2 linked regions of the Homo sapiens genome follow. The protein of the gene in region 2 binds, or shares a complex with, the protein of the main gene of each other region. Links are inferred from orthologs where the notes say so. Each region holds a gene or a part of one and is shown on either strand. Other genes may lie near its edges. The genes, in order: ARL6 and BBS7.

Region 1 (11,773 bases), on a different chromosome or scaffold from region 2:
ACTGCACTCCAGCCTGGGTGACAGAGCCAGACCCTGTCTCAAAAAAAAAAAATAAATAAATAAACAAAAAGAATAAGGGTAACATCACCAAAATGAAGTAGAAGCAAGAAGCAATTAGGCTTCACTATCTCCCACAGAAAACCAAAAACAAATATCCAGTACTAAGATTAGCACAAGTAATATCCCTTAAGAAAGGAAGAAAGGAAAAGAGGAGCTACAAAACAAGAGAAAAATTAACTAAATGGCAATAGTAAGTCCTTACCTATCAGTAATAGTATTAAATGTAAATGAACTACATTCTTCAATTAGAAGACACAGAGTGGCTGAATGGATTAAAAAAAAATAAGACCCAACTATGTGCTTTCCACAAAAAACTCATTTCATCTATGAAGATACACACAGGCTGAAAACAAAACGGATAAAGACATTCCATGTAAATGAAAACCAACAAACAGCAAGATTAACTATACTCATATCAGATAAAACAGATTACAAGTCAAAGACTATAAAAAGAGACAAAGTAAATCACTATATGAGGAAAAAGGAGTAAATTCAGAATGAGAATATAACAATTGTAAATATATGTGCCTTCAACATGGGAACACCGTATATATTAACCAAACATTAATAGAGCTAAAGGGTGAGAAAGACTGCAATACAATAACAGCAGAGGACTTCAACACCCCATTCTCAGTAATAGACAGATCATTCAGACAGAAAAATCAACAACAAAAGAAATCCAAGTTAAACTGAACTCTAGACCAAATGGACCTAATAAACATTTATGGAACATTCCATCCAACAGCTGCAGAATATACATTATCTTCATCATCAAATGGAACATTCTCTAAAATAGATCATGTTAGGCAACAAAACAAATCTCAACAAATTTTAAAAGGTAGAAATCATATCAAGTATCTTTTCTAACCACAATGGAATAAAACTAGAAATCAATAATGAGAGGAACTTTGGAAACTATAAAAACACATGGAAATTAACATGCTTCCTAATATTCAATGGGTGAATGAAGAAATTAAGAAGGAAATTCAAAAGTTCTTTGTGATGGTTAATACTAAGTGTCAATTTGATTGGATTGAAGGATGCAAAGTATTGATCCTGGGTGTGTCTGTGAGGGTGCTGCTAAAGGAGATTAACATTTGAGTCAGTGTGCTGGGAACAATCACCTTAATCTGGGTGGGAACAATCTAATCAGCTGCCAGTGTGGCCAGAATATATAAAGCAGGCAAAAAAAAAACCTGAAAAGGCTAGGCTGGCTTAGCCTCCCAGCCTACATCTTTCTACCGTGCTGGATGCTTCCTGCCCTTGAACATCAGACTTCAAGTTCTTCAGTTTTGGGACTCGGACCGGTTTCCTTGCTCCTCAGCATGCAGATGGTATATTGTGGGACTCTGTGATCACGTGAGTTAATACTACTTAATAAACTCCCCTTTATATGTATATCTATCTATCCTATTAGTTCTGTCCTTCTAGAGGACCCTGACTAATATAGATTTTGGTACCAGGAGTGGTTCTAGAGGAACAGAATATTAAGGATGGAGTTCTTTCATTGGTTTTGGGGTTTCTGGAGTTGGCTGCTTAATATGATTAGACCCCAAAATGCTAAGGACTCTACTTTTAATAGTATGGAGAACACTGATAGTCCTTGGCACGAACTGTTTAGAGAGTTATGCAAAATAAATGCATTTGACACTCTTGATTCACTGCTCGTGAGCGGTAAGTAGTTTAGTGACTCTATACATAATACCTTTGACTATATGTGGAGAACCAAGGAACATAATGAAGTTGGTTGGTTGCTCTTAAGTTCACTGGACAAAGTAATGAAAGAAAATTATGAACTCAGGGATTGTAACTCCCAGCTTCAGAAGCACATACTGAGCCTCAAAGCTGCTAAGACTGCCCTGAGTGAGAGTCTTATCTCCTGTAGAGAAAGAGCTGAAATTGTGGAAAAACAGGCACAAGCTCTTATATCAGTTGCTGACCTGCAATGAAAGGTGCATGCACAGCCTCGCCAGGTACCTACTGTTGAAGTGAGGGCATTGATTGGAAAAGAATGGGACTCTGCAACTTGGAATGGGGATGTGTGGGAGGACCCTGATGAAGCTGGGGACACCAAGCTTGTAAACTCTGATGAACCTTGTTTTGCCAGAAGAAACAGCTTCCCCATTCCCAGTAGTGGCAACATCCCCTCCCCCACCCATGCTGCCATCAGCCTTTCCACCTTTGTCTGAGGAGATAAACCCTGCGCTGCCTGGGACAACAGTGATGGCCTCCCCTGAGGCAGTTGCCAGGCAAGATAATGTTGATTCTCCTCAAGAGTCACCCTCAATACCCCCGCCTGCTTCTAGAATCCCGGGGGGATTCTAAACTAAAATCCCGGAATAACTAAACTATAACTAAAATCCTGGGGGGGCCCCAGAGGTAAGGTTGAGAGTGTGATCCATGAGGTGGTGCACTACACTCAAAAAGAACTGCTCGAGTTTTCTAATTTATATAAACAGTAATCTGGAGAACAGGCTCCTCCTACCTTTAAGTCAACAAGCTAAGAAGGGAGTTAGTGTTGGCTGGGGTGACTATCCGGGACTATCAAGATGAAATCAGACTATCACTCCACAACGGAGGTAAGGAAGAGTATGTATGGAATATAGGAGATCCATTAGGGCATCTCTTTGTATTACCATGCCCTGTGATTAAGGTCAATGGGAAACTACAACAGCCCAATCTGGCAGGACTACATATGGACCAGACCCTCCAGGAATGAAGGTTTGGGTCACTCCACCAGGAAAAACAAACAAACAAACAAACAAAAGCAGCACCTGCTGAGGTGCCTGCTGAAGGCAAAGGGAATACAGAATAGGTAGTAGAAGAAGGTAGTCATCAATACCAGCTGTGACCACATGACCAGTTACAGAAACAAAGACTGTAACTGCCATGAGTATTTCCTCCTTTTGTTAAAAACATGTTTGTGTACATATAAACTTGTACTATGAAAATATATTCATTTTATTTTCTTTTTCCTTTATCATGTGACATAAGATTTATTAACTTCATTTCAGCATTTAAATACTGTTGACTTTATGTAATAGCATTTGGGTTGGGGATTGGTATATTTCCGGTTGTACGAAGGATAGTTGTATTATGTTAGGCATAATTATGACCTTATTATTGTCCTTATTTGAACATTATGTATGATCTCAGGAGATGTGTATTGACAAGGGGTGGACTTGTGATGGTTAATACTGAGTGTCAACTTGATTGGATTGAGTGATGCAAAGTATTGATCCTGGGTGTGTCTGTGAGGGTGCTGCCAAAGGAGATTAATATTTGAGTCAGTGGGCTGGGAAAGACAGACCACCCTTAATCTGGCTGAGTACCATCTAATCAGCTGCCAGTGCGCCCAGAATATATAAAGCAGGCAGAAAAATGTGAAAAGGTAAACTGGCTTAGCCTCCCAGCCTACGTCTTTCTCCCATGCTGGATGCTTCCTGTCCTTGAACATCGGACTCCAAGTTCTTCAGTTTTGTGACTCAGACTGGCTTCCTTGCTCCTCAGCCTGCAGACAGACTATTGTGGAGCCTTGTGACTGTGTGAGTTAATACCACTTAAGAAACTCCCCTTTATAGATATCTATCCTATTAGTTCTGTCCCTCTAGAGAACCCTGACTAATACATTCTTAAATGAAAAGGGAAATACAACATACCAAAATCTATGGATACTGCAAAACCAGTACTAACCAAGAAGTTTATAGCAATAAACACATACATCAAAAAAGTAGCAGCCAGGCGTGGTGGCTCACACCTGTAATTCCAGCACTTTGGGAGGCCGAGGTGGGCAGATCACCAGAGGTCGGAGTTTGAGACCAGCCTGACCAACATGGAGAAACCCCATCTCTACTAAAAATACAAAATTAGCAGGGCATGGTGGTGCATGCCTATAATCCCAGCTACTTGGGAGGCTGAGGCAGGAGAATCGCTTGAACCCGGGAGGCAGAGGTTGTAGTGAGCCGAGATCACACCATTGCACTCCAGCCTGGGCGACAAGTGCAAAAATCCATCTCAAAAAAAAAAAAAAAAAAAGTAACAAGCCTTCAAATAACCCAATGATGCACCTCGAACAACCAGAAAAGGAAGAACAAATCTAAACCAAAATTAATAGAAGGAAATAAATAAAGATCATAACAAAAATAAATGAAAGTGAGACTAAAAACATACAAAAGATCAAAGAATCAAAAAGTTGGCTTTTTGAAATTATAAAATTGAGAAGACATTAGATAAACTAGGAAAAAAAAAGAGGATCCAAATAAATGAAATTAGAACTTAAGAATGAGAAATAACAACTGATACCACAGAAATACAAGGGATTATTAGAGATTATTATGAAAAACTACATGCCAACAAATTGGATAACATAGAAGTGGATAAATTGCCGGACACATTCAACCTACTGAGATTGAACTATGGAAAAATAAAATACCTGAACAGGCCAATAATGAGTAAGGAGATCAAAGCACTAATATAAAGTCTCCCATTAAAGAAAATATTAGGACCTGATGGCTTCACTATGGAATTCTACCAAACATTTAAAAAACAAATACTAATTCAACTCAAACGATCCCAAAAAGTAAAGAGAAGGAAACACTTCCAAACTCATTTTACAAAACTGGCATTAATCTGACACCGAAACTAGTCAGGAATACAATGATAAAACTACAGGCCAATATCCCTCATGAACATAGATGCAAAAATCTTCAACAAAATGCTAGCAAAACTGAATCTAACAACCTATTAAAAAGTTCATTCACCATGATCAGTAGGATTCATCCCAGGGATGCAAGGATGGTTCAACATACACAAATCAATATATGAGCCCATAAGATTAATAGTATCAAGGACAAAACCATATGATCATTTAAATAGACGTTGAAAAAACTTTTGATAAAATTCAACATCTCTTTATGACAAAAACTCTCAACAAATTGGATTAAAAGAACCATACCTCAAACAATAAAGGCTAAATAAATGACAAAACCATGGCTAATATACTAATATTATACTGGTGGAGCTAATATACTGAATGGAGAAAAACTAAAAGCCTTTCCTCTAAACCTGGATCAAGACAAGGATGTTCATTTTCACCACTTTTACTCAAAAACAATACTAGAAGTTCCAGCCAGAGCAATTAGGCAAGAAAAATGAAGGTCATCAGTATTGGAAAGAAATAACTCAAATTATCCTTGTTTGCAGATGACATGTTCTTATATTTAGAAAAACCTGAAGACTCTACCAAAAATACTGTTAGAACTGATAAAGAGATTCAGTTAAGTTTCAGGATACAAAAGTCCACATATAAAAATCAGTAGCATTTATATACACCAAGAACAAACAATCTGAAAATGAAATCAAGAAAGTAATCCCATATATAATAGCTATAAAAAATATAAAATACTTAAGAATAAATCCAACCAAAGATCTCTACAATTAAAACTATAAAATATTGATAAAAGAAATTGAAGAGGACACAAAAACATGAAAAGCTATTCTATCTATGCTCATGGATTAAAAGAATTATCACAGTTAAAATATCTATACCACCCGAAGAGATTAACAGAGTCAATGCAATCCCTATCAAAATACCAATAACATTCACAGAAATATAAAAAGAATCCTAAAATTTATATGAAACCATAAAAGACCCCAAATAGCCAAAATAATCCTGAACAAAAAGTACAAAGTTGGAGGTACCACACTATCTGACTTCAAACTATACTACAAAGCCATGATAACCAAAACAGCATAGTTTTGGCATAAACACACACACACAGACCAACAGAAGAGAACAGAGAAGCCAGAAATAAATCCATGTATTTACATCCAACTCATTTTCCAAAAAGACATCCAAGAACATACATTGGGAAAAGGATAGTCTTATGATGCTGGAACACTGGATAAACACATGTAGAAGACTGAAACTAGACCCCTATCTCCCACCATATACAAAAGTCAACTAAAAATGGATTAAAGACTTAAATCTAAGACCCAAAACTATCAAAGTACTAGGAGAAAACACAGGGAAAATGCTTCAGGACACTGATTTGGGCAGTAAGACCTCAGAAGCACATGTAACAAAAGCAAAAATAGACAAATTGGACTATATCAAGCTACAAAGCTTCTACACAGCAAAGGAAACAATCAACAAAGTGAAGAGATAATCTACAGAATTACAGAAAATATTTACATAATATCCACTCAACAAAGGATTAATAACCAGAATACAGAAGGAACTCAATTCAGTAGCAAGGAAAAACAAAACACAAAAAATCTGACTAAAAAAATGGGTAAAAGATCTGAATAGACATTTCTCAAAAGAATATAGACAAATGGCCAACAGGCATATGAAAAAAATGCTCATCATTATTCATCAGGAAAATATATATCAAACTACAATGAGATATTATTTCACCCCAGTTAAAATTGCCTTTATCAAAAAAGGCAAAAAAATAATGAATGCTGGTGAAGATGTAGAAAAGGGGGAACTCTCGTAGATTGTTGGTGGGAATGCAAATTAGTGTAGCCACTATGGAAAACAGTATAGTGTTTCCGCATGAAACTAAAAATAGAACTCCCATAAGATCCAGCAATCCCACTGTGGGAATATATCCAAAAAAATGGAAATCAATGTATCAAAGAGATACCTGCACTCCCAAGTTTATAGCACCACTATTCACAATAGCCAAGATATGGAATACACTTTTGTCCATCAATGGATGTATGGATAATGAAAATTTGGTACATATACACAATGAAATATTATTCAGCCATAAAAAAGACTGAAATCCTGTCATTTGCAGCAATATGGAGAGAACTGAAGGTCATTAAGTTAAGTGAAATAAGCCAGGTCCAGAAAGACAAGTATCACATGTTCTCACTTGTTTGTGGGATCTGAAAAAGTAGATCTCATAGAGACATAGAGTAGGTGGTTACCAGAGGCTGGGAAGGGTAGGGCGGAGAGAGGGGTGGAGAGAGGTTCATTAATAGGTATAAAAATACAGTTAGATAAAGGAATAAGACTTAGTGTTTGATAATTCAGTAGAGTGACTATAGTCAACAATAATTTACTGGATATTTCAAAATAGCCAGAAAAGAAGAATTAGAATGTTCTGAACATACAAAAAAGATAAATTTTTGAGGTGATGGATATCCCAGTGACTCTGATTTATTATGCATTGTATGCATGTATCAAACTATCACATGTAACCCCTAAATTTGTATCAATAAAAAATGATATAAAAACTGGATGATGTGACAATAAAGATTGGTAGTGGAATAAAGATTGAAATTTTTGAAAAAGGTATATAGAGTCTATCTCTAAAAAAATGACAGCTAAGACTAGATTCTTGAAAAAAGCGATCAGATTAAAATGTCCTCCCTCTCTCCCTATTCTAAAATGCCAGCAACCTCAGTACATTAACAATAAATAAACATAAAGATAGCTTAATATGAAAAACTAGTTTGTGTCCAGGAAAGAACTACTTACCTAGAAACTGATTTTATCCACAAAAATGAGACAATTTTACTATAAAATGAGATGGGCACTATTTTTTTGCAAGGCATTTCCTATCACAGCATTGTACATTTCTGTACTTATTTTATTTAATTCCTTAAAAATAATGTTCTAGTAGTGGATGTAAGCTTACAAGAGACTCTTCTTGAGCTTGGTGTAGGAAGGGAGCAAGTGTTGTATCTACATCTATAACTGAGTGACAGAGGTTTGAAACCCCTCAAGAAGTCCCATTTCAAGTGGCTCCTTGGCTGTTACCATTACCATAAAAAAAAGAAAAAAAAGCAAAGCCAATCACTTTTCTCTGGACCTGGAGGTCAGTTTTTCTGATAAGGCAGGAGAGTTGTCCAAACATAAAGGCTCAGGAATTGGTGCCAGAAATTAGGAAAGCCCTATTAGATAGGCTTTCTTTATATGCAGCAGACTTTAACTTTAACTTATACATCACATGTTAAATGTGCTAGCTTTATATATTTTTCAGTTATTACAATATGTCCATACACTTGTTGCTTAAAATCATCTTGCTTACTATTACTAATATGCATACTATACTTTCAAAAATTGTCTAATTATCCATAGAACCTATAAAAATGTTTCACCTTTCTCTGTTTTGCTCCTCCTGTAAGGAGGAAACTAAAAAGAAGGCAATGACATTTAAAGTAAACTCAGTAAATCTGTGAAGAACTTTTGAAAGAAAAGACATTTGAAAATAATATTCCAGTTTAATAATTAAAATTTACTGTGTAAAATATACTGCAAATTATGGCTGAGGATACTTAAAGGTACTGAAAGGTTAACAGAATATCTTAATGTGATTATATGCGGTTTTAACGTCATATAACATAATTCTGCACATTAATTTTCTTTAGTAGCAGAAAATACATAAAGCATCTAACAAAGATACTTACATTTGAAGGTTTAAGTTTGTTAATGATCGTCGTTTTGCCACTATTATCTAGCCCAAGGCACAAAACATGAACCTCCTTCTTCTTCAGGCCAAGCAAGACTGAAAGTCTGTCTAGCAATCCCATAATGTGATTCAAATATTTACAAACCAGCTGCAATTAAGAAAAAATAAAATATTACCCAAAGGCACCTTAAGTTATGGAAAATATTGGTAGGTGTATTAAAAAAAGGTAATAATTTAAATACACATAATAATAGTGTGAAAACTATGTCAATGTAGCTTTGCACTTAGTAAACACAGTGTAAGCTGATTACCAGAAAGGAGCCTTAACTGACACGCAGATTTGCAGCTTATAACAGGTGGCAACACAGAACAATGCCTTGGAAATAACAACATTTCTCTCTGTAATTTATCATATTTAAGAATAAAACATGGTCAGCCTCAGTATCATTTGGAGTCTGCGAATTGTGATACTTGAAAATATGGAAGAATTAGGCCGTAGCCTTTCCAGAAAATCTGAAACAATGAATGGGCAATGGGGTTCATGTAGAAGGCAGAAAGTAGAAGGCAGATCTGAAAAGCAGACAGATTTTGAGATTTTGGTGATATCATTTAAGCCACTGTTAAATCTTTATCAGAAGCCAGCCCCATTGTTATATTTTGTAATAATATGAAGTTACAATAAATTCACTTTTTTTTTGCTTGCTTGGTTATTTCCAGTTTAAGTAGGGTTTTCTCTCAGTAGAAGCAAAGAATCCTGAAATACTTATCCTTATTTCCCCTTATCCTATACATACATCTTTGTAAGTCACCACAAATCCCTTTGTGAAGAAGGTTATGCATAAATACATACACACATTCAATTTATTGAACCTTACTAAATATCTGTTTTTTAACTGTAACTTATCTGAAACATCCTCCTAAGTGCTATTTTAAAAGGACTTTATCGTATTAGTATAGAATAAGGAAGTAAATACTGATTGTAGATTTTAATTTAGTTTTTTAAGTATCTTAAAAATTTCTTTGTTAACTTGTCCCTAAAGTGTTCATTTCTCTTGTTCAATTGTATTGATTCTTTGAAAAAAAAATTCTTTCTAATGCAAACTTAAAAAAAAACTATCAGCAATCCAAAAATAGAAGTATTTGGAAGTCAAATAAAACTGCTGTGTACATAAAACTTGCTATGTGGTAACTTTATGGCTGTTTATATTCATCTAAGGTACTGTTAAATTTACACTTCAGGTCTCCAAACTAAACTTTTCAAAGGAGCTCACTTTGGGTCCATTGCTCCCCAAACCATTACTTTGTGGTAGAAGGACAGGGAGATAGATCCCTTTTTCCAGCCCCCAACTGCTGCAGGAACTGCTACAATATATCTATGTACCAAATATTTCTCATTACTCACCAACATTAGTTCTCTAATGTTTTTATTCTCATTAAATTGACTTATTCTCATCTCCATCTAAGGTTGCATAAGCAACCTGTCATATTACAGTTTCTTCAATACTTTTTATTCCATACAATTTCAGGCAAGGCCATACCTTGAAGGATGTGAGGCTGCAGCAACTTTATCAATAACAGGCTTCCAAGACAACTGTATCTAAAAGGAGGTTGCATAGTCAACATTTTGCTTAGGCCTTTTGGGATATGATTATGGGTAGAAATTTCAAAACTAAATTTCAGTGATGTGCAGAGAAGAGATGGAACAGTGCCATGCCAAAAGGTGAGGCCTATTACAGAACCACGTTTGTCTTTCCCCAAGGATGAGTTTGACCTCAGGTACTTCCATTTGTGCCACTTCAATCTGCTTTTCTCCTTGTATCAGAGATTCAAATCTTATTCAGTCCATTTCTTTAAATTACAGCTTAAGGACCAGCATTTGTAAAATCTATTTTAAATTAACCTTCTGATGTCATGAAGCAATTCACACATACCATTTGATTTCAAAGTAAATTTGCTATTACTCACTTTATTTACTGCATAAACATATTGATATAAATGCTTATATCTTGTTCTCCATTTCATAATTTAGAACTTATGTTTTAAAAACGACAACTTCTCACATTTTCCCCCCTTTAAGCATCTACTATAAAGCACTGAGTGTTTAAAGCCTGATGCTTGAATATTCGTTTTTCACAGTACCTTGTATTGTGACTTTCCATCACTTTTCCATGGATTATCACTTGATACTTGTTAATGAAATATTTTGGGACACACAATTTAGAAGAGCAGGCAGTTTTTCTAAAAGAGGTAATCACATTTATTGAAATTGCTTTATAAACAACTATCATAGAGCCTTTAAACTTCTACGTTTCAAGTAGTTATAATTTTCCTTCCATAAGTTGACTTTCTGCATGCATAAATAAAAGATAATTGAAGCCAGTCAATATTTGTTAATCGTGTCTTAAGTGTGCAGCGAGAGACACAACTGTTTTCTGCAGCTTCCTACTCTGATAGCCATGATTCTCAACCCTGGCTGCACTCTGAAATCAATTGCTGAATCCGAATTTTTGAAAATAAGATCAGGGCATCTGTAGTTTTAAAAGCTACCCAGTGTTTCTGATGTGAAGTTACTATTGAGAACTACTGGCTTTCAGAATAAAGCCAGTAGTTTCAAACTTCCAAGCACAGCTTTTAAGGTTGTCCACAATCTGGCTCCAATCTTCCTTTCTTGTTTCTTATCTTACTGTAACCCTCTCTTTGCACACCAGCCAAATTCTCTTGGTTATTGTCTGACAGACTGTTTCCTAAAGGATTACATATTGCCAGAGAAGTCCAGAAGAATTAGGATGTTATCCACAGTTAACAGCTTAGAGGGTAAGCTGCAGAGACAGAGTGGTAGCCCAGAGAAAACACCACGAATGATACTTAGTAAACTCTGTAAAGTGTTTGTTGATTGAAATGTTGCCTACTTTTATTACCCCAAATAAACATTCTTATTCGGCTTTCAGTTTTTTATGATATAATTTAAATTACACTTACACACACACACACACACACACACACACACACACACACACCCCCAATACACGGGTCTAAGTTGAGCATTGTTAAAACCCATCAACCAAACATACGTCCAAACCAGTTTAGTAAGTTTTCTAGGGCCTCTATAACTCACCTTCTTTTCTACTTCTCATACATTAGCAACAACTACACGCGTGGAGTGAAAAACATGGGAAAGACCAAAGAGGAATTCTAAAACTGACGGGGACAGAGGGTGGCGCTGGCTTTAAAAACCGGCGTTGAGGAGATACCTGGTTTTTGAGGTTAGTCCGGAGGGCGCAGGAGCT
Region 2 (12,074 bases):
GCCATCGTGCCTGGCTAATTTTTGTATTTTTAGTACAGATGGGGTTTCACCATGTTGGCCAGGCTGGTCTCCAACTGCTGACCTCAGGTGATCCGCCCGCCTCAGCCTCCCAAAGTGCTGGGATTACAGGCGTGAGTCACCATGCCTGGCCAGGATTTCATTATTTTTTATTGCTGAATAGTATTCCATTGTGTATATATACCACTTTTTTTTATACATTCATCTGTTGTTAAACACCCAGGCTGATTCCATATCTTGGCTATTGTGAACAGTGCTGCAATAAAACATGAGGCTGCAGTTGTCTCTTTGATATGATGATTTCCTTTCCTTTGGGTAAATTCCCAGCAGTGGGGTTGCTAAATCATATGGTCGCCCTATTTGTAGTTTTTGAAAAATCCTACATACTGTTCACTATAGTGGATGTACTATCCCACCAATGGCACAGAAGAGTTTCCTTTCTCCACATTCTTGCCAGTATTTGTTGTTTTTTGGTTTTTTGTTTTCTTGTCTTTTTGATAACAGCCATTCTAACTGGGGTAAGATGATACTTCATTGTGGTTTGATTTGCCATTTTCCTGATGATTAATGATGTTAAGTATTTTTTCATGTTTTTTTGGTCATTTGTATGTATTCTTCTGAGAAATGTTTAGATCATTTGCCCACTTTTTAATCAGATTGCTTGTTTGTTTGCTATTGGTATGTTTGAGTTCCTTGTATATTCTGGATATTAATTCCTTGTTGGATGAGTAGTTTGCAAATATTTTAAATCCCATTCTATAGATTGTCTTTTCACTCTTGTTGATTGTTTCCTTTCCTGTGTAGAAGCTTTTTGGTTTGATATGATCCCACTTGTTTATTTTTGCTTTTGTTGTTTGTGTTTTTGAGGTCTTATTCATTAACTATTTTCCCAGACCAATGTCCTAAAGCATTAACATTTAGGTCTTTTTTTGTTTTTTGTTTTGTTTTGTTTTGTTTTTTTGAGATGGAGTCTTCCTCTCCTGAGTAGCTGGGATTACAGGTGCCTGCCACAATGACAAGCTAATTTTTTTGTATTTCTAGTAGAGATAGGGTTTCACCATGTTGGCCAGGCTGGTCTTGAACTCCTGACCTCAAGTGATCCACTCGCCTTGGCCTCCCAAACTGCAGGGATTACAAGTGTGAGCCACCACACCTGGCCACATTTAGGTCTCTGATCCATTTTGTGTTCATTTTTATATGGGGTGAGAGGTGGGGGTCTTGGTTTCATCCTTCTGCATATGAATATTCAGTTTTCCCAGCACCATTTATTGAAGAGGCTGTCCTTTCCCCAGGGGCTGTTCTTGGCTCTTTTGTCAAAAATCAGTTGGTTGTAGATATGTGGATTAATTTCTGAGTTCTCTATTCCATTTTATGTTCTCTGTGTCTCTGTGTTTTTATGCCAGTATTATGCTGTTTTGGTTACTACAGCTTTGTAGTATATTTTGAGATCTGGTAGTGTAATGCCCCAGCTTTGTTCCTTTTACTCAGGATTGTTTTGGCTATTTGGGGTCTTTGTGGTTCCATACAAATTTTAAGATTTTTTTTCTCTTCCTGTGAAAAATGACATTGGTATTTCGATAGAGATTGCATTGAATCTGTAGATTGCTTTGGGTTGTATTGTTATTTTAACAAAATTAATTCTTCCAATCCATGAACATGGGATGTTTTTCCATTTGTTGGTATCCTCTTTAATTTCTTTCATCAGTGTTTTATAGTTTTTTTTATAGAGGTCTTTCATTTCCTTGGTTAATTTATTCCTAAGTATTTTATCTTTTATCTATTATAATTGGGATTGTGTTCTTGATTTCTTTTTCAGCTAGTTTGTTGTGTATAGAAACACTACTAATTTCAGTATATTAATTTTGTATCCTGCAACTTTACTGAATTCATTTGTCAGTTCTAAGAGTTTTTTGGTAGAGTCTTTAGGTTTTTCTATATATAGGATCATGTCATCGGCAAACAGAGATAATTTGACTCTCCTTTCCAATCTGGATGCACTTTATTTCTTTTTCTTGTATAATTGCTCTGGCTAGGACTTCTAGTACTATGTGTAATTGTTGATTCATCTTGCTAAAATGTTTATATATCAGGATAAAGTATTTTTTTGCAGCTATTAAAATATTTGGCTAGTCTACTAAGAAACTATAATTGTTTTGTGGAAATCATAGGATCAACATTTCTTTAAACATAATCAATATTGTTAGTTAAGTACAGTTTAACATCAAAATATTTAATGACTTTAAAATATGAGAAAGTTTAAAGAGAACATTTTCTTGATACCTTATTCTGCTTTATATTTCTTTTTTCATATACACATCTGACACACAGAAAAAATGGAGTATGGTTTTTAAGTTTGCCTACACTGTTTACTAATGGTATATAATAATTTTAATGTCCAAGAAAATTATTGTCTATAAATGTCCCTTGGTATTCCAGTTTCTGTTCAAATTAAAAAATTCATTTCCATTTTAACATTAGCATTTTTAAGAGAATAACTTAATAATAAAGAAGGAAATAGGAGCCTCTCCTCTGTCACTGCTAGGGAATAGTGGAGAAATCAGAATCTATACAGTACCTTTTGTGTAGCTCTGTGTCTTGAGGCAGGAATTAGCTTCATAGTCTTCTGAGATGTTACTCCCACCTAAAGAAAAACACCAGATGCCTAGTGAATTTAATTTGAAGTTATTACAGAGATTAAAATAAGTTATAGTGAACCTTTTTGTTAAACTGAAATTAGTGATATAACTATTATCAGTAATTAATTTATTTTCTAATGAGATATGTCATATTAGTCAGAATACATATAGGAAACAACCAAAATAGTAAAATTTATCCTATAAAGTTGTCAAGCCAAAAATAGTTGTGTAAGATGACTGGCAAGATGCTTTACTAAAAAATATCTCTAGAAGCCTTCTTTTCCAACTGCATACAGTTGTTCAGCAAAGTGATTCAAGAACTTTGAAAATAGATTATAGTTATTAAAAATGCAACGGAAGACCACATGCAGTGGCTCATGCCTGTAATCTCAGCACTTTGGGAGGCTGAAGTGGGAGGATCACTTGAGCCCAGGTGTTCAACACCATCTAGGCAACACAGGGAGACTCTGTCTCTACAAAAAATAAAAAATTAGCTAGGCATGGTGGTGCATGCCTGCAGGCCCAACTACTTGGAAGGCTGAGGCAGGAGGATAACTTGAGTCCAGGAATTTGAGGCTGTGGTGAGTCATGATCATGCCACTGTACTCCAGACTGGCTGCGTGACAGAACAAGACCCTGTTTCAAAAAAAAAAAAAAAAAAAAAAAAAAAAAAAAGAAGATTTATGCTAAAATACCAAATATGATAATGGCCATAACATCCAATCTAACAGGTGAAGATTATTTTACAAAAAAATACAGAGGATGAAAGCAGCAGGGAACTGTCACTGCTGGTGTATAGTTAGGAGAAGAGGATGGGACCAATGGGAGAGGAATTGGTGAAAACAACACATCATGATAAAACGTTCATATAGTATAAATGACTTTATTCTGCATTCCAGAAAATTGTATTAAAGTCATCTGCTTAGATTTGTATTTCTGAAACATCAATCTAGCAAGTGATGTGAAGGATGGCTTGGAGGGAGATGAAGCTGGAGTTCAGGAGCCCAATTTGGAGGTTATTTCAATTATTCAAGCAAGAGAAGATGAGAACCCAAATGAGGGTAATAGAGATGGAAGATATGGGACAGATTCAAGAGATATTTGGGAGTTAAAAGCAGTAAGATGTGGTGACCAGTTGGATATGGAAGTACATAGCATAAACCCCTAGAAAATTGACTGGGCAAACATTTGTACCATTAACTAAAATGAGGTGGCCTAAAAATATGATGAGGAATTGGGGTAGAGAGAATTTTAGGTCTGAAAGAAATTCTGAAAGGCAGTGTAGTGTAACAAAAATACACCAGTTCTGGAGTCCGAGACTTTGATTCAAATAGCCACTCCCTAATTTTTAGCTATTAAGCAAATTACTTGCCTTCTCTAACCCCTTAGATCCTCATTTATAATATTGTCTACTTTGCAAATTCTTATGAGGATTAAATATGTTGGTAGGTATGCTAAATTCTTAGAATAAGCTAGATGCACATTAAACTGTTGTCATTGCTTTTTTTCCCCCTTTCGAGACAGTCTCGCTCTGTCGCCCCAGCTGGAGTGCAGTGGCATGATGTCAGCTCACTGCAGCCTCCGCCTCCCGAGTTCAAGCGATTCTCCTGCCTTAACCTCCCGAGTACCTGGGATTACAGGCGCCCGCCACCACACCGGGCTAATTTTTGTACTTTTTGTAGAGAAGAGGTTTAACCATGTAGGCTAGGCTGGTCTCGAACTGCTGACCTTAGGTGATCCGCCCGCCTCGGCCTCCCAAAGTGCTGGGATAACAGGCGTGAGCCACTGCCCCCGGCCCGGTTTTCATTGCTTTTACCATGATCTGCCTGGTGCGGTACAGCTCACAGTAAGAAACAAGTGCCTGGTGCTCCGCAAAAGGGTCCGGGTAGAGATGGAGATTGAGGATTAGAGGCCCTCAGGCAGCCACGGCTAGGGAGGAGGAGAAGGGCCCTGGGGGGAATCCGGGATGAGACAGTGTCACATTTTCAGAGCATCCTCAGGACCCGGCAGAAGCCAGTACCGTGGGGGCTTGTGCCGCTTTTCCCCGGTCCCCTCGGACCGTCACAGACGAAAGGGAGCTGCCCAAAGGCGGGGTGCTGAGAGGTCGGCACCCAGCCCGGCTCCTTCGCCTCCGCACCAGCTCCTGGCGACCGAGACTTTCGTCAGTGGAAGGAAGGAATCCTCTCCGGGTGCTGGGCTTGCCCAGCGCGGCGCCCGCCCTATCCCTTGGGTTTACCTGCAGATAATCCATTCGGTTTAAAATCAGATCCATGATGACTACGCGGAGGGGCTAAGCAGCGCCGGACAAGAACAGGAGGGACAGAGGCTTCGGGCCCGCAGGCCTCCGACCCAGTCAGAAGGCTGCCCGCGCCCCTCAAAAGCCAGCCCCAGCTACCGCGCCTAGGTCCTGGGCTGCACAGGCGGGGCGACAGGGCAGTGGCGTCCTGCGTGACGTCAGTACGCTGCTGCGAGGGGCTCCTGGAAGAAGATGAAGGCCCGCCCCTTTCCCGAAGCACCGCCCACTGACAGCGTGTTCCAATCAGAGGCGGAGAGGAACAAAAGAGGCGAGGTCCGGGAGACCCATACAGGGCGGTTTCCACAGAGACCCCAGACGCAGTCTTGGCTCCACCCTCACCGCGGCCCAGGGCTAATACTGGACTTCTTTCCTTATCGCTGTAGAAAAAACTAGATAAGCCTGCTAGATTCTGACCGATTTCACTCTGACATTGGAAAGGGTCCTACAAAGAATTAGGTTCCACCGTTATAGGTGCTAGCTTACAGCAGCGGTTCTTAGACTTTTGGCCTTAGGACTTATTTACAAGACTCTTAAAAACCGTTGAGGAGCACAAAGACCATTTGCTTTTTGTGGGTTTTCTCTCATTTTTAATGTTTTTTTTATTTCAATAGTTTTGGGTGTACAGGCGGGTTTTGGTTACATGGATGAGCTCTTGAGTGGCGAATTCCGAGATTTTAGTGTACCCGTCACCCACCAGTGTACACTGTACCCAATATGTAGTATTTTATCCCTCACCCCGCTCCCAATCTCCTCCCTACCTGGAGTTCCCAGAATCCATTATATCGCTCTGTATGTCTTTGCATCCTCATAACTGAACATGCAGTATTTGGTTTTCTATTCCTAAGTTACTTCACTTAGAATAATGGCCTCCAGTTCCATCCAAGTTGCTGCCAAAAGATATTATTTCGTTCCTTTTTATGGCTGAGTAGTATTCAATGGTGTATATATACTACATTTTCTTTATCCACTCGTTAGTCAATGGGCACTTAGGTTGGCCCCATATCTTTGCAATTGCGACTTATGCTGCTATAAACATGCGTGTATATGTGTCTTTTTCCTTTGGGTAGATACCCAGTAGTGGGATTGCTGGATTGAATGGTAGCTCCACCTTTATTTATTTATTTAAGGAAACTTTATACTGTTTTCCATAGTGGTGGTATTAATTTACATCCCCCAAGCAGTGCAAAAGTGTTCCCTTTTCACCATATCGACACCAACGTATATTTTCTAAATTTTATTTTTTATGTTTATTTTTTTTTTTTTGAGACAGAGTCTTGCTCTTGTCCCCCAGTCTGGAGTGCAATGGCACTATCTCGGCTCACTGCAACCTCCGGCTCCCGGGTTCAAGTGATTCTCCTGCCTCAGCCTCCCGAGTAGCTGGGATTACAGGTGCCCGCCACCACGCCTGGCTGATTTTTGTATTTTTAGTAGAAACAGGGTTTTGCCATGTTGGCCAGGCTGGTCTCGAACTCCTGACCTCGTGATCCGCCTGCCTCATGGCCATTATTGCAGGAGTAAGGTGGTATCTCACTGTGGTTTTAATTTGCATTTCCCTGGTGATTTAGTGATGTTGAGCATCTTTTCATGTTTGTTGGCTATTTGTATATCTTCTTTTGAAAAATGTCCTTTGCCCACTTTTTGATGGGATTGTTTTTTTCTAGCTGATTTGTTTGAGTTCCTTGTAGATTCTAGGTACAAGTCCTTTATCAGATGCACAGTTTGAAAATATTTTCTTTTACTCTATGGGCTGTTTACTGATTATTTCTTTTGCTGTGCAGAAGCTTTTTAGTTTATTTAGGTCCCATTTATTTATTTTTGTTTTTGTTGCATTTGGCTAATGTCCAAAAGAGTTTTTCCAATGTTATCTTCTAAAATTTTTGTGGTTTCAGGTCTTAGATTTAAGTCTTTGATTCATCTTGAGTTGATTTTTGTATAAGGTGAGAGATGGGAATCCAGTTTCATTCTTCTACCTGTGGCTAAACTAGTTTTCCCAGCACCATTTATTGAATAGGGCGCCCTTTTCCCAATTTATGTTTTTGTATGCTTTGTTGAAGATCAGTTGACTGTAAGTACTTGGCTTTATTTCTGGGTTCTCTATTCTGTTCCATTGGTCTATGTGTCTTTATTTATTTATTTATTTATTTTACCTGTACCATGCTGTTTTGGTAACTTGCCTTGCAGTATAATTTGAAGTGTGGTAACGTGATGCCTCCAGATTTGTTCTTTTTGCTTATTATTGCTTTGGCTATTCAGGCTGTCTTTTGGTTCCATATGAATTTTAGAATTTTTTTTTTAGTTCTGTGAAAAGTAGTAATGATATTTTGATGGGAATTGCACTGAATCTGTAGATTGCTTTGGAAAGTATAAAGACCATTTGTTTATATGAGTTACCTATTGATTTTTACCATATTAGACATTAGAACTGAAAACAATTAGTGTTTTTTAAAAACCTATGACAAATATCTTAATGAAAAAAATATTTTCCAAAATAAAAAAATAAAATAACTGGTACTGTGCGCAAATCTATTTTCTGTCCATTTTAATAGTAGACAGGAGGAGCTTCAAATCTGCTACTGCATTCAATCTATTGTTATATGTTGTTTTTGTTCATGTATATGAAGAAAATTTGGTCCAAACTCAACAAGTAGTAGTTTTTTGAAAGGTTAGTTGCAATGTGAAATGTGACTTTGTTACACAACATCAAAAAATTCCATCTGTTAGTATCACCATGGATCTCATCAGTAAAGTCCCGAGTATGGGAGATCTGTCAAACTTAGATGGTGAATACATATTTTCCAAAATTCAAATTTGTGCTTGAAAGTTTGAAATTTACACATTGGCAAGAAATGTCGATTGTTTTCCTTGAACTGATAGGTTCCCTTCTTGAATTCACAAGAAAGTAAATGCCAGATATCTAAGTCTGAATAATCATAATTTGTGAGTAATTCCTTCAAATAAAAAGTGTCCCATGAAAAAAGCAGGAAGTTCAGCTAGCAGCTCAATCCCACAAGTGCTTTTCCTTGAGACAACTAATGTATTTCAGTATTCAGTAGAAGGATTTTATACATACTTCTTATGTCCTCACATAGAACATTTAAAAAGACATATTCAAGAGTTAAGATGTAATAAATGAGGGCTGAATCAGAAGAAAGAAAAAAGAAAAAAAGATAATATTAACAATGTTGCTGCTTCGTTAAGAACATTTTTATATGAAATGGTTTTTGTTTCCTATCAGTGCATGTTATATAGAATATGGTGTCTACTAGTACAGTTTGGAGCCACTATTTTGATTTATGCTTAAGCACTAGCAGTATTAACCACCATTGTTTCGGTACCATCAGTGCAAATGTCAGCAGAGTGAAATGGCAAATCACAACTTAGTGTTATGAAAATAGTTTCAAAATTGCAGACAGCTGTGAAAAGGCCTCAGGAACCACCCCTGCCCCTCGGGGCCCCACAGACTACTACTGACCCATAGTGACCCAGGATTTAAGAGCTGACATTCTTTGACTCACTTTCATCGGTCCTTCCTTAATGTGCATAGAGCTCTGCCTGGGGAAATACAGATAAGTTCAGATACAGCTACTTTCCTGATTCTTGTGGTTTTTCTTTTTCTTTCTTTCTTTTTTTTTTTTTTTGTAGAGATGGAGTTTTGCCATGTTGCCCAGGCTGGTATTGAACTCCTGGGCTCGAGTGGTCCGCCCACCTCAGCCTCCCAAAGTTCTGGGATTACAGACATGAGCCACTGTGGTTTTCCAGGAAAGAGTTCACAAATAATTGTGAAACAAAAAGAATTAAATCCCTGAGAAGAGGTGCTTCTTAAGAAGAGAAGTTATTTACTGCAGCAATATCTGAAAAAGTTTTCCCTGTGTTCCAGACAATTATATCTCTGAGGCTAAAATAATCCCACATTAAAATAGACAATACATGTAGATGGGTTAGCTGTTCAGCAATTTGGGGGAAATATATATCAATTTAGATTCAAGAAAAAAATACAAATAAATTTTAGAAGTCAACTGAAAAATAAAGCCATAGAAAAGACAGAAGAAAATAGAATTGTATAGCATTTTACAGAATTTTGGAGGTTGGAGGATATAGTATTAGTTTGCTAGGGCTGCCATAGCAAAGTAGTACACACTGGGAGGCTTTTCAACAACAGAAATTTATTTTCTCACAGTCTTGGAGTCTAGAAGTCATAGATCAAGGTGTCAGCAGGGAATAAAACCGATCTTCAGAGGCCTCTCTTCTTGGCTTATAGATCGTCATCTTCTCCGTGTCTTCACGTGGTCCTCCCTCTATGTCTGTCTGTGTCTCATCTTGTCTTTTTATAAGCACACCAGTCATATTATCTCATTTTAAATTAATTACCTCTTTAAAGACCCTATCTCCAACTATAGTTATAGTCTGAGATACTGAAGGCGAGGACTTTAACATGAGTTTTGAGGGGACACAATTCAGCCCATAACAGAAGGAAACTGATCTCAAAAGGAATAGAAGAAACCACAAAGGAAAAAAGCAGATATGGTGTTACATGCCTGTAGTCTCAGCTATTTGAAGGCTGAGGCTCAAGATTGCTTGAGCCCAACAATCCAGCCTGGGCAAAATAGCAAGGCCCCATCTCTAAAAAACAAACAAAAAACTAACTTAAAAAAAATGAAAAGTAAAGATAAACATTTCAATATGTCACAACAATGTTTAAATGAAAACAAAAATATAGGAGAAAAGAGTTAATATCTTAAAAAATAGTTCATACAAATTAATAATGAAGAAATACTATGGTTCTAATAAATAGGTAAAAAAAAAAACACCAAAGACAGACAATGCTGGCAGTGCTTACTTTCCATTTAGCAAGTGATGTCCACTGTTCAATTAATTGTGTAGAAGGAAAGTAAAAGTTTATTTTGAAGCTCAAATTTATTTTAAAACAGTGAAATGAGGCTATGATATAGCATCAAAACAATACAAAAAGTTTGCATAATATGATATTTGGAATTCTTTGATTTTGCATCTAAAAATGCAATTTATTATTTTTAAAGTACATACTATGTTTTGTTTCTAAATGATTAGTAAAGATTTCAACCTACTAATTTTAAGTATTCCTCAAATAATTAATTAGCAGGGTAAGGAATTTTTATTCACAATAAAGAAAATGTCAAGTTAAATTACCACTGTGTGTCCTCTTTTTAAAGATGTTTTAGGGTATCAGAGACATCTTGGTGGTCTTTATAAAACTCAACAGAAGATGGCTGCCTCTCAGATGTGACAAAGACCACTTTAGAGACAAATTTGCAGAATTACCATGCACCTCAGTAATTTATAACCTTATGTTATGGTGCTAAAGCAACCATTATGAGTATAAGTTAAACAACTTATGGCTAAAAATAAAAGCAATTTAAACTGCATTAAAGTTAAAACCATCAACACGCTAGTGGTGGTCAGCTGAGTGACTGAGTCATGAGTAAAAACATTAGTTTCCCCTAACACATGGTATAAATTTAGAAATTCTCAAACTCTTTTTTAAACTGAACAAAGTTATAAATACCCATTTTAGATTTTTTTTTTTTTTTTTTTTTTTTTTTGTGGGGGGTGGTTCACTTTGTCACCCAGGCTGGAGTGCAGTGGCGTGAACCAGCTCACTGCAGCCTCAACTTCCTGGGCTCAAGTTATCCTCTCACCCCAGCCTCCTGAGTAACTGGAACCACAGACACATGCCACCATGCCCGGCTAATTTTTTTTGTATTTTTTGTAGAGACAGTTTCACCATGTTGCCCTGCTGGTCTCGAACTCCTGAACTGAAGCCATCGACCTGCTTCAACGTCCCAAAGTGCTGCGATTACAGGTGTGCACCACTGTGCCCAGCCTGATTTTGGGAGGCTGAGGCAGGAGGATCGCTTGAGGCCAAAAGTTAAAGACTAGCCTGGACAACATAGTGAGACCCGCCTCTAAAAATGTATTTTAAAAACTTTATTTAAAAAATTTAAAAAGACATGGAAAGAAAGATTACCACCTTGGATGATGACATTAACCTCCTAAAACACCTCTATGAGCTCCAGGGACTAGGAACCCCTGATGTAGCATAACCCTGTTTGCCTGAACCATTTATGAAGACCAGAGAAGTTAAATGGTTTGTCCCATACCACAGTCATTAGTGTGGCTTCAGTTCTCTTTAGACATTGTCCATCAGACAATTTATCTTCCCATTTACAAAAGCTGCTTTCACTTGGCTTGCACATTTGAAATATAAATATATTGACATATTGGGTAAGATAGTTATCCTAAATTGTACCAAATTTGCTTTTAATAATCACAACATATCATTTTTGTTTTTATTGTGCATAAACTCTGTAAAGATACTCTGTACCATTTTTCAAAGTTTTCTCATTATTTCAAGTCTAAGAACCCAAACTTTTCAACAGATTGTGACTTCCATAAAGTCATGGGTGCTCTGTAAATTCAATACAGCAGGCACTTACAAAGTACCCAACTTTTCGAACAATAAGTCTAAGAAGCACTTTGAGTGTTGCTTTCTTTTCTTTATCTGTAAATGAGAAAAAAATAAGAATAGCAAAGAGGTAAAAAATGAGAGATGTCCTAAGGAAAAAAGAGTCCTGGGGCTTTGACAATCCTTTAATTAATGTTTTTTTCTATAAAGTTGTTTTTGGTCCTGTTTAAATGCTCCCTTCTCTGAGTTGCCCCAACAACTTCTTTGAGGTTTGTTTTCCCAAAGGTACCTGTTAAAAGTGACTAGGGAAAAGACTTGCTGACCCAGAGCTATCTTTATCCTCAAGTGAAGGACTAATTCTGACAGCAATCCCCTCGACTAATCCTCATCTCAACCGTATGCTACCACATTAATACCTTATGGCTTAGTGTGAGTTCCCTAAAAGCAAAACCTAATAAGATTTGGATGTGGTGACTCATTAAGGGGATGCTCTCTGGAGAAAGGGAAGGAAGGAAACTGGAAAAGGCAGAGGAAGAATCTAAACCAGGATTTCATCTCAGCTTGAGTCTGGCATCACCCTAATCCTTTCAGGAGCTCTGGAGCATGAACTGCACTGAATAGTTGGCCCCATCTTGAGACAAGGGGCCAGCCCTTTGTGCCCCCACCCATCAGTCACTGGCCA

Evidence for each region.
Region 1: the proteins of BBS7 (region 2) and ARL6 are in contact, whole or in part, in a cryo-EM structure (PDB 6VBV), measured with the Bos taurus proteins. The link is inferred for Homo sapiens from one-to-one orthologs. Residues at the interface, in NP_001178275.2 of Bos taurus: Leu3, Ile249, Val250, Gly251, Asp300, Gly301, Tyr302, Asp303, Thr319, Glu320, Pro321, His323, Lys324, Glu325, Ser326, Gly327, Pro328; in NP_001069250.1 of Bos taurus: Met132, Asp133, Arg135, Thr139, Ser140, Val141, Ser144, Trp157, His158, Ile159, Cys160, Ala161, Asp163, Lys166.

What each region holds. Positions count from the first base shown.
Region 1 is NC_000003.12:97,764,942-97,776,714, reverse strand, and holds part of ARL6 (ADP-ribosylation factor-like protein 6), read right to left. Parts: 5' UTR 11,738-11,773; intron 10,725-11,737; exon of another isoform or gene 10,626-10,724; intron 10,084-10,625; exon of another isoform or gene 10,025-10,083; intron 8,635-10,024; 5' UTR 8,608-8,634; coding exon 8,485-8,607; intron 1-8,484. UniProt on the Homo sapiens protein: Involved in membrane protein trafficking at the base of the ciliary organelle. Mediates recruitment onto plasma membrane of the BBSome complex which would constitute a coat complex required for sorting of specific membrane proteins to the primary cilia.
Region 2 is NC_000004.12:121,865,388-121,877,461, forward strand, and holds the start of BBS7 (BBSome complex member BBS7), read right to left. Parts: upstream 5,088-12,074; 5' UTR 4,927-5,087; coding exon 4,891-4,926; intron 2,660-4,890; coding exon 2,594-2,659; intron 1-2,593.